Regions from separate parts of the Homo sapiens genome. Here region 2 is linked to region 1. Evidence: fine-mapped QTL for protein levels in blood plasma. Region 1 holds a variant in brackets. A gene starts in the other region. All regions are shown on their forward strands.

Region 1 (5,000 bases):
TTCTCCCACAACTACCCCGGTCAGGTCCAGCACTTGGGAGCTGACTGTGCTGGAGGTGACAGGCTTTGCGGGGTCCGCCTGTGTGCAGGAGTCGCAAGGTCGCTGAGCAGGACCCAAAGGTGGAGTTGTCAGTGGGAGGCCGGCTGTGCCCAGGGTCCTAGGGCCACGTTATGGGGGTCGTCAGGCCTAGGCCACTGTGCCTCAGGGCTGCATGGGTGGTGAGCAGTGGGAGGGATGCGATGGGGGGAGTGGGCTCAGCTGTCTGCTGTGGGTGTTTCCTCGGGGACCTGGCTGGCAGGGACCTCCCGGCCAGCCCAGAACTGCCAACATGTCTGCCAGCACTGCCCCTCCATTCCCAGTCCTGGGGGGAGGCTCTGTCTGGGCAGCTTGAGGCCTGACCTACTGTGGCTGCTTCCTCTGCTCCCCAGCCTGGGTCCTGAGGGCCTGGCTTAAGGGAACTGCTGCCAGAAGGCTGGGAGTGTAGGCAGTGTTCGGGTGCCCAGCTGTGCCCTGTCTGACCTCATGGCCACCCACAAGCTGGCACCCCCCACAGGCCTCTTGGGGAAGCCTGTACTTTCCACCGC[C/A]GGAGGCGGGTACCGCGTGGAAGCCAGGCTCAGGCGGACTCATTCTTTTTGAACTTTGGGAACAGGCCTGGTACAGGCTGAGTTCTCACAAGAGACACACACCCGTGTCACTGTCTCCTGAGCTGTGCCGGACCCGTCCTACAGACTCCACCTCCTCTAGGTCCTGGCCCTGGCATCTGCCAGGGGGATTTTAAATGAGTTGATATATGCTAAGTGCTTTGAAAGGCGCCTGCACGGAGGGAGAGCTGTATAAATATTCACTATTGGTAATATTTCTCCCATGCTGTTACTCTCCAAAGCTGCCCGATAATTCTAGAGTGGGTTCCGGGGACGTGCCCGCTGTTTGGGGCCTAGAAATGAACTCGGGAGGTTGTTTTGCTTGCTGAGAGCTGGTCTGGGAATGCCCCTTGACCGTTCCCTGCCCTGCTCCTGGCCCACTCCCAGACTGCTCCTGTGCCTGGCCCCATTGCGCTGGGTGGGTGATCCTAAGCTGCCCCATGGGCCCTGGGCTCTGTCAAGACATGGGGAGCTTGCCAGGAGTTGGGGCCAGATCCCCCAGACTCCAAGATGGTAACCGAGGTTGTGAGGGTGCACATGGAAGGAAGAGTTAGAAGAGTGAATTGGAAATTGCCAGCTTGGACTTTGGGCAGAGTGGGTGTCTTTAGCTTGGGGATGGGTTGTTGTTCAGAGACAACAGGGCCGCCTTCTCTGTGAGCTGGCGGCCCAGGCTGAGGTGCCTCTGGGCTGCCTTCCCTACGGGAAGCAGTGACTGGCCCTCTGCTTCTCAGGAAGAGAGTGCCGTGCCCCCGCCAGCCTCCCAACCTCGTTAGACTCCTAGAATCCGGTTTTCTGGATAGAACTAAGAATCTGCTCCTTTCTGGACTTTTAATCCTGGAAAGGGCTCCCTTCCCCAGCAGGAGCAGAGAGACCAAACCCCCTTTCTGTGCTCCATCTTGAGCTGTCATTCTGTCCTAACTCCCCACTGGCCACCATCTGCCCTTGCTTTGGGGGCTACCCCAGGTCTGACTTGGGCACGTTCTCTGGGTCTCTCCTCAGAGAGGCTGCTCCTGGGGTTGTCCCAATGGAATTGGGAATTCTTCTCAGAATGGCTCAAAGGTTTGCACCATCTGTTGGAGGGAAGGGATCCCTCTATCTTGGACTAATACAAATGTTTCCGTGCCTGCCAAGTTCCAGACCCTGGGCCGATAGGGAAAGGAGCTGGCTGGGGGGCCTGCAGGGGATGGAGAGGGAGCTTGGGCCCCAAGTGGGGTCTGAAGTCCAAGCCTACAGATTGCCATCAAGGCAGCCGCTAGAGCCTAGCCCAGCTCCTGGCCCCTCGGAGATGGACCTTAGATGCTGGAGAGCGGGGCAGTCCAGCAGTGCAGGGTGGGACACCCCGAGCAAACAGCCCCTGCTTCCTGCCCCCTCAGTTCAGTCGCACTGGGCCGGCTGGACGTTTCCCTGCAACAGGCCCCTGCTGGTGGTTTAGCTCCCGCTCCGTGTTTCCCTCACGCTGGGATCCTCCTTCCTACTCAAGACCCACGACCTTGACCTGAAGCTTTTGGTTGCCGGGAGGAAATGGTGAGTGTAGGCAGATTTGGGTGACTCTTGTTATTAACCCCCTCTTCTTTGTTGCCCCCTTCCCAGAGGCTTCTGTATGAGTGTCCTGAGTGGCCCTGGATGGACTACTGGCTGTCCCTGGCCTCAGAATCACCCCAACCCCTGCCACATTTCGGGGAGGGAGGTGTGTGAATGATGTCCTTTATTCTACAGACTGAGGAAGTGGTCAGTGTAGCTTCACGTGAGAGCAGCAGCGTGCGATGCCCAGGCCCTAGCCAAGTGCTGGTCAGCTTTCTGACTGGAGCCCCTGAGCCCTGCAGGGGCTGAATTCCCCCAAAGGTTGCTTGGGTTGTTGCATTTCGGGGTTAGAGGGTGTGGGTGTCCAGAGCTGTGGGTTTTTAGTGTTGGCTGAGCCCTTTACCTGGGACCTACAGCCTGGCCACAACCCCATCTCTGTTCCCCTGTACCCCACACTGCCCTGTGATAGGATGTGATAAGATGGTAGGATTGCCTATACTGAAGCCCTGGGTGCCACTGCTGGCCCAGCAGGGAGGAGGTTGCTGCTGCTCGGGCTGAAGTGAGGTGTGGGTCTGGCTGGGCCTCCAGTTTCCCACCTGGGCCTTGATTGTGAGGAAGGCCTGGCCTGGCTGCAGAAGCCCAGAAGCACCTGAGTAGGAGAGTTCCTTTGTCCCACCTGCAGCTCATTCAAGCCTGTGCATGGGGGTTGGGGTCCTCAGGATCTTGCTTTCCTGTTTAGGGGAGGCAGCCCCAAAGAGTGCTGGGACCAGTTTGGAGAGTGCTAAGGAATGCTGGTCTGCAGCGACCCTACTTGTGCTCTGCGTCCTCTGCCAACTGCAGCATGGGTGAACATCTGTACATCTGTCCCCATAATGAAAATGGCCTCAGCAAATAACAAAAATATTACCATTTAGCAATCAGGCACTTATTAAAAGCCTGGCCCAATAAACTTAAAAAAAAAAAAAAGATGTGCTAGACACTTTACGTCCCTTCATGTGAGCTTCACACAACCCTGTAATTAAGCCCATTTATAAATGAAGAAATGGAGGATTGAAGGATTAAGTTACTTGGCCAAGGTCATACAGCTCGTAAGCAGCTGAGCTAGGACTCAAATCCAGGCTTGCTTCCAAAACCTTCACTTTTCAGCCCAGTTCTCAACTGCCCCCTGGAGTTTGCTCATTTTGCCCCATGAAGAAACAGATCCCAGCTCAAAGGCGTGAAGGGGTTTGCTCAAGGCCACAGTGTATTAGTGTCAAAGGTGGAACACAAACCCTGACCTCTGAGTGCTCTCCCGAACCCCACATCCCGGCCGGGCCGTACCCTGAGCACACGCTTGTCCGCTTTCTCAGCTGGGCGGGGCGGGGCAGGACAAGGTTCTTCTCCCTCCCTCCTTCCCTCCTTCCCTCCTTCCCTCCTTCCCCGTGGGCCCTCCCAGCCTCCCCAGCCCCCACCTCTGCTGCTTTCCCTTGGCAATTGCTTCCATCTGGCCTGCCTGCAGCTCCTATTCCTTTGGAAATGTGGCTGCCGCCCACATGGCTGCAAGGCAACCACGGCCACACGTGGGGAAGGGGAGGGGCCCTATGGGGTCTAAGCACAGGGAACCCAGCCAAAGTGGCTGCTCCTGGCGTCTGGCATCCTGATTCCTGCCAGGCAGAAGCACCTTGGCTGCCTGGCCCTCCTTGATGCCCGTCCTGGGCTGGCTCAAGGCCAGAGAGGCTCCCAAAGACCCAATTCTCCTTCCAACATGGTGAGCTGTTTTGCCCACAGACAAGCTCCGCACCGGCAGCCCTCCCTGTCTCTTAGAGGTTGCTCAGGTTGGGAGGAGGGATTCCTGGCAGGAGAGAATTAGGGGCCAGCCGGGGTATACCCTGGGTTCCCACTGGGTTCTGATCATTTGGAGGGAAGTCATGCAAGGGACTGACGAGGGCAGAGGCTGAGGGATCCGCGGAGTTCTGGGCAGGCGAGGAGGCAGCTGACTTGCTCATGACTGTGGGTATGCGCCACCACACTAGGCTAATTTTTCTATTTTTTGTAGATACAGGGTTTTGCCATGTTGCCCAGGCTGGTTTTTGTTTGTTTGTTTTGTTTTGTTTTTGAGACAGAGTTTTGCTCTTGTTTCCTAGGCTGGAGTGCAGTGGCGCGATCTCGGCTAACTGCAACCTCCATCTTCTGGTTTCAAGTTATTCTCCTGCCTCAGCCTCCTGAGTAGCTGAGATTACAGGCACCCGCCACCACGCCTGGCTAATTTTTGTACTTTTAGTAGAGACAGGGTTTCATCATGTTGGCCAGGCTGGTCTCGAACTCCTGACCTTGTGATCCGCCCACCTCAGCCTCCCAAAGTGCTGGGATTACAGGCGTGAGCCACCGTGCCCAGCCGAGCGTGTCTGTCTTGTTCACTGGTGTATTTTCTTAATGCCTGGAATGATGTCTAGCAAACAATAAGCACTCAATAGATTCTTGTGTGATGAGTGATGGAAATGCAGCTCAGGTATGCTGATTTGTCTTTGCTGCATCTTTACTTTGCTTCCTCCTCCCAGGGCAAAGGGAAAAAGTTTCCCTTTTGCCAGTTGAGCTGTTTGCCAGAGAAAGGTCTGGCCCCATCTGTGTGCTGCCACCTTGGGGGTCTCTGTTCAGACCTCAGAGAGGCAGGCAGGAACCCAGGTGAGGATGGGCAGGAGCTTGTCCCCTGAGGAGTGCATGCCCCATTCCACCCACCACAGGGTCGGCTGGCCACATTTCTCTACCCATCACCCCTCCCTAGTAACCTTCAGGTCCCTGCAGACAGGTCCTGACCTCAGCTCCAATCCCTATGTCAGTCCTCTCCTTATTTGAGGCCCA
Region 2 (5,510 bases), not on the chromosome of region 1:
CCTCCTGCCCTCAAAGTCCACTGCCAAAAAGTGCGAGGGGCGCGGGAATGTCCAGTCTCTGCGGTGGCGCAGATGCCTGGCGGCTTTCTCTGGGACCCCCTAAAAGAAATCCGGGCGCTTTCATTTTTGCACCAACGCTCTTCAACTTTAGGAGAGGGGGAATGCAGCGTGCGGACGGGAAAAAGGGGATCTAGTGGGAAATGCGGACGTGAAAGCACTTTTTTTGCACCTTCTCTCTGGACCAGGCGAGGAGGTAGAGGGCGAGCCTGGAGAGGAAAGATCTCTTCCCACACCCTGCCTGGGTGCTTTCAAGAATCCCGGCAAAGACCCTGGGGCGCACGGCGCGCCACCTTGGACATGTCGCCTGGGATCGGCTACCGGGAGCTCCTTTTCCCGCCTTCTCGGCCAGCACCGGGCTCATCCTCCCGGACCGGGAGGCTCCCCGATCGGGGACACTCTCACGTGCCGAGGGCAAGGTTGACTCCAGGAGGGCAAGGCCCACGCGCCCGACGCGGCGCGCGCAGGAACCGAACAGTCCGGGGGTCCCGGAGCCACCCGCGCATTTTGACTACGCCGTCCCCGCCCTCTCTCCGCACCCTCCGCACCCTCCGCACCCTGCGTCCCTCGGCCGCATCTCCGCCGGGCGTCCGCTGGCTGGCTAGCTCACCACTCCACGCCATCCGCCTCCAAAGCCCGGCACTCACCTGCCCCGCGCGGCAGGCGCGCCGCACCCAGCAGCAGAACCCCTAGCAGTGCGATAGAGACCCCGCAGTTCAGGCCGGCCATGACTCCGGGACGCCTCGGCCTCGGTGGGGAAAACGACGGTGGGGAGCGGCGGCCCCAGGCGCCCAAGCCCGGCGCAGCTGCGCTCCGCCCTGGCTCACTCACCTGCGCGCGGGCGGACCGGCCCGAGCCCCGCCCTGCGCAGCAGGATCGCGAGCTGACCCGGTGCGTCCCTCCTCTCTCTCCTCCTCCTCTTCCTGCCTCAGCGACCGCCTCTCCCTCCCAGGGTGCAGGGCTCCCGGCACCGGGTTGCTGGGTCCCTACTACTCCCCATTGCGGCGTTGGAGCGGACTTGTCCCCACCTTTCCGGGCTTAGTCTTCCTTCCCAAGTCTGAGAATGATGAGGTCTTTTTCTCCAGAGTCGCGAAGGTCGCCCATAGAGGAAGCCAGTCTACCTTCCCTTTTCTGTCGAGGAGACAAAGGCCATTATGCGCCTCGTTTTGGAGAAGAATCCTATTTGTGGGCCACCCAAGCCCTGGATCCTCTGCTACTTGACTTGGGCCAGAGGTCTGTTGGACTTTAAAGCCGGTGGTGGTACAGCTAGTATTTGCAGGACGGTGAGCCTGCAGCCTACTCCACACACATCACCTGCAGTATTTCCAGACACGCAACGTGTCCAAGGTCCCCAGGGTAGCTAGTAAATTAGAGGCAGATGCACCACTTCGTTGAATTGTGAGTAGAGTAGTATGCATCCCTTCACTGAGCTGTGGATGGAGTAGTATGTGCCCTTCTCGAGTTGTATTATAAATGGAGTAGTGTGTGCAGTGTGAGCGTGAAGCATTCAGGTCAAACGTTGGGCTGGAAAATGAATGAAAAATGAATGGCGCTGGACTCCTTTTCCAAATCCTCCCAGCCGCAGGTGTGCCACCTGCCTGTCTTCAGAGGCCCTGTGGGTTCTCCTTCCACCCTGCCGGCCATACACCAAGTCCAGGCCACAGGCAGAGATTGCGGATGGTTCAGGAGTTCTTAGCTAGCAGACCTGGGTTCTGCCAGAATGACTCCCTGGGACTACTTGTGTTCATGGATAGCCAGAAGCTGGGCCAGAGTCACCCGGAGCAACCTGGGAGGCTTGGGACAGGAACCAAAGCATGTGCGACAGCATCAGTTTACAGTCCAGTCCCAACTTCTGCTTAATTCTTGCGGGCACTGAGCCTCTCCAGGCTGCCCCAATCCTCCTTGTGGACAGGGGTGGGAAATCATCTCCTAGGAGCGTCACCCCTTCCTTCTCGATGTCCTTAATCATGAGAATAGAGCTAGCTCTGCCCTCTGGGAGCCCACAGTCCATCGAGGGAGGCAGAACTTGGAACATGACCCTGCCCACACCCCCACCTCTGGGAGGGCCTGTATCGTGAGCTAAACGGGACCTTAGATGTAATCTTCTAGTCCACTTCTGTCCTTGTGCAGAAAAATGGGAAAACTGAGAACTAGAGGGAAGGGAGAGGATGAGAAACGAAGAGAGGCTCTTGGTTCTCCCCACTGAATCGAGGACAAATTCATCAAGAGAAAGAAATCTTGACAAAAATCTAAACAATCTTTAAAAATATTTATGCTGACCAGGAGGGTGAAAGGAGATTTGTCTTTTCTCCTGATTCTAAGCAGGCATATATATCCCAGCATCTTTTCCTAACATCCATGACACCATTGTTTCCCACATACAGTAATACCCACAACAGTACTAGAATGGCAGTGTATTGAATGCAAAATATCAGAAATATTGCTTGACAAGTTAAGCCTAAGGAACAAGTTATTTCCTTACTATTTCGTCTCTCCAAAGTTTGCTTAACTGTCTTTCTTGGGATAGTTGACACCAGCTTTCTGAAAATGGAATGAGAGTCACTAATTCCCAAATATGAAGCATTGGTGGTGGTTCCAGAAAGTAGCAGCAACGAGAAAGAAGAAAATAGGGAGGCACTTCAGCATCCTTTGCGTGACAACCCAACTACATAGTTGAAGTAAAGATGTCCTGACATACTGTCCTGGTCCTCCAAGTGGAGTGTGAACAAAGCATTGCCAAGAATGGACATGTTTTGTCTTTACAAACATGGCTGAATGGAAGGAGTAAATTTTAAAAGGTTATTTCTGAACTGGAAAGCAACGTAGGTAACTATAATCTAGTGCTAGAGAGAAATGAGAGATTGAAAGGTAAATTTTCGGCTGGGTGCAGTAGCTCATGCCTGTAATCCCAGCACTTTGGGAGGACAAGGTGGGTGGATAACTTGAGGTCAGGAGTTGGAGACCAGCCTGGCCAACATGGCAAAACCTCATCTCTACTAAAAACACAAAAATTAGCCGGCTGTGGTGGCGGGCGCCTGTAGTCCCAGCTACCCAGGAGGCTGAGACAGGAGAATTGCTTGAACCTGGGAGGTGGAGGTTGCAGTGAGCTAAGATTGCACCATTCCACTCCAGCCTGGGCGACAGAGTAAAGTTCTCTCTCTAAAAAAAGAAAAAAAAAAAAAAGGAAGGTGAGTCTTAAAACAGACTGTCCCATCTAATTTTGACCTCTTCTGAAACCCTGCAAAGGCTGTAAAACAGGGATTAAAAAAAATTACATAAGCCCACAAAGGTGGGAAGAACAGAGAGAAGACAACAGCAAAATCACCCTGGAAGCTAGACAGCAGCTGGACTAGTGGTAGCTGCCTTAGGAGCCTGGAGATGGCAGAACCCTAAGCCAGTAGTGGGGAAAACTCAGAAATAACACGATTAACACAGAAATCCTCAAAAAAGATCCTCAGGAAATGGCAGCACAAGGTATTCTGCAACTGGAGGGTGAAAGAGGAGTTAAACAAGAAAGGCTAGAAGAAAGCTGTTTGAGAAGTACTGTGGTTAGATCCCAGAACCCATCCATCATTACCCTTGCCTGGGCAACAGTCCCTCGTCCAGCTTCCAGTGTTGTTCTTGAGAAATCCAAAACCATTCTCATTTTTATTATTTTCTTTGAGACCCTTTTCTTGCCTCTAAAGCTGTAGAATCTTCTTTTTGTTCATTGGTTTCTGAAATTTCACCATAATGTGCCTTGATGTGAGTCTGCCTATATTATCGATCTTTAGATCTTGACAAGTTAGAGGGTTGGTAAGCTTAACAACTTTAGTGTTGTCTTCTGGAGAGATTAAAACCTAGGGATGTGGGCTGAGGGATGCCAGGCATAGCTGAAAGCATAGGAAACATTGTAAAAGTAGGTAAATAAAGGGAAGATATGCATTCTGAATGCTGAGATCCCCAGCTGTCTGGCCCCAACCTGCATCCAAGGATGAGACAAAAAGGCTTTGTTATCCATATTGGGGATGGAAAAAGTCTTCTTCTGGGGAGTCTGACCAGCACAGGAGGAAAGACCCAAACATATGGACATTAGACCCTCATAAACAGGCCAACCAGCTTCCTACCATGAGGCTTTCAATTAAGCCCCACCAACTTAGCTTTTTAATATCTCATTTTAATTTTAATTTTTATTTATTTATTTTTTTTGAGATGGAGTCTCGCTCTGTCACCCAGGCTGGAGTGCAATGGCGCGATCTCGGCTCACTGCAACCTCTGCCTCCCGGGTTCAAGCGATTCTCCTGCCTCAGCCTCCCAAGTAGCTGGGACTACAGTTGCACACCACCACGCCTGGCTAAGTTTTGTATTTTTAGTAGAGATGAGGTTTCACCATGTTGGCCAGGCTGGTCTCGAACTCCTGACCTCATGTGATCCACCCACCTCAACCTCCCATAGTGCTGGGATTACAGGCGTGAGCCACTGTGCCTGGCCAATATCTCACTTTTAAACATGAGCAATCAGGATTTCAGGATATCTGAGGAGAGCTTCTAACATATTAGAGTCAAAGCCAACCAAGTAACCAAACCGAGAAAAAAGAAAGAAAGAAAGAAAGAAAGAAAGAAAGAAAGAAGCAACCTGAAAGACTATACAAAGAGAAGAAAATAAAAGGAAGCAAAACAAAAAAATTACTAACTCTCTTAGAGTGATGTAGGCAACTATAATTTGGTGTCAGACAACATTCTCTCTGTGAAGCAGGAACAGCATGTTATAAAAAACAAAACAAGGCCGGGTGTGGTGGCTCACACCTGTAATCCCAGCACTTTGGGAGGCTGAGGCGGGTGGATCACCTAAGGTTGGGAGTTTGAGACCGACCTGACCAACATGGAGAAACCCTGTCTCTACTAAAAATACAAAAAATTAGCCAGGCGTGGTGGTGTGTGCCTGTAATCCCAGCTACTCAGGAGGCTGAGGCAGGAGAACCACTAGAACCCAGTAGGCAGAGGTTGCAGTGAGCCAGGATTGCACCACTGCACTCCAGCCTGGGCAACAAGAGCGAAACTCCATCTCAAAAACAGAACAAAACAAACAAAAAGATTCAGAGAACCACAAAAGAATTATTGGAAATGAAAAAAAGTGATTGTAGATAAAAAAAATAATAATAAATAAATAGAAGAGTTAGAAGTGCTCCCAGAAAGTAAAGCAAAAAGACAAAGAGATAAAAAGTAGGAGGGAAAAGTAAAGAAAATTTGAGGTCCAGTTCAGAAAATCCAACATCTGAAAAATAAGTTTCCTAAAAAGAGAGAGCAGATGAAACAGAGGAGACGACATCATCAATAATATAAGTGAAGAAATTCTCCAGGCCTGAATGACATGAGTTTCCAGATTAAAAGAGTCATGGAGTGCCCTGCACAATGGATAATATAGGCAGACTCACGTCCAGGCACATCATGGTGAAATACCAGAAACCAATAACG

Alleles and levels. Positions count from the first base shown, and alleles are read on the strand shown. Strength reflects both the effect of a copy and how common the allele is.
With allele C in place of A in region 1, the plasma level of the protein whose gene starts at base 877 in region 2 is higher (moderate association).

What was found. PIP is the chance, under the fine-mapping model, that this variant and not a neighbour inherited with it causes the effect. Protein levels are from antibody-based Olink assays in UK Biobank. Linkage for the fine-mapping came from a reference panel and not from the study's own genotypes, which makes the PIPs less certain.
Region 2: it holds the start of CDCP1, and the variant in region 1 is fine-mapped to the plasma level of the CDCP1 protein (UK Biobank, PIP above 0.99).

What each region holds. Positions count from the first base shown.
Region 1 is chr11:126,356,184-126,361,183 of GRCh38, forward strand. All of the region lies in intron 1 of ST3GAL4 (ST3 beta-galactoside alpha-2,3-sialyltransferase 4), which reads left to right. Among named protein-coding and RNA genes, the nearest start is that of ST3GAL4, 3.0 kb to the left of the region's middle. RefSeq lists enhancers at 1-624, 312-461, 2,111-2,852. The variant C/A (reference allele first, on the strand shown) is at 585.
Region 2 is chr3:45,145,502-45,151,011 of GRCh38, forward strand. It overlaps CDCP1 (CUB domain containing protein 1), which reads right to left and starts at 877. Exons shown (of 9, transcript NM_022842.5): 1 at 705-877. The coding sequence starts at 786.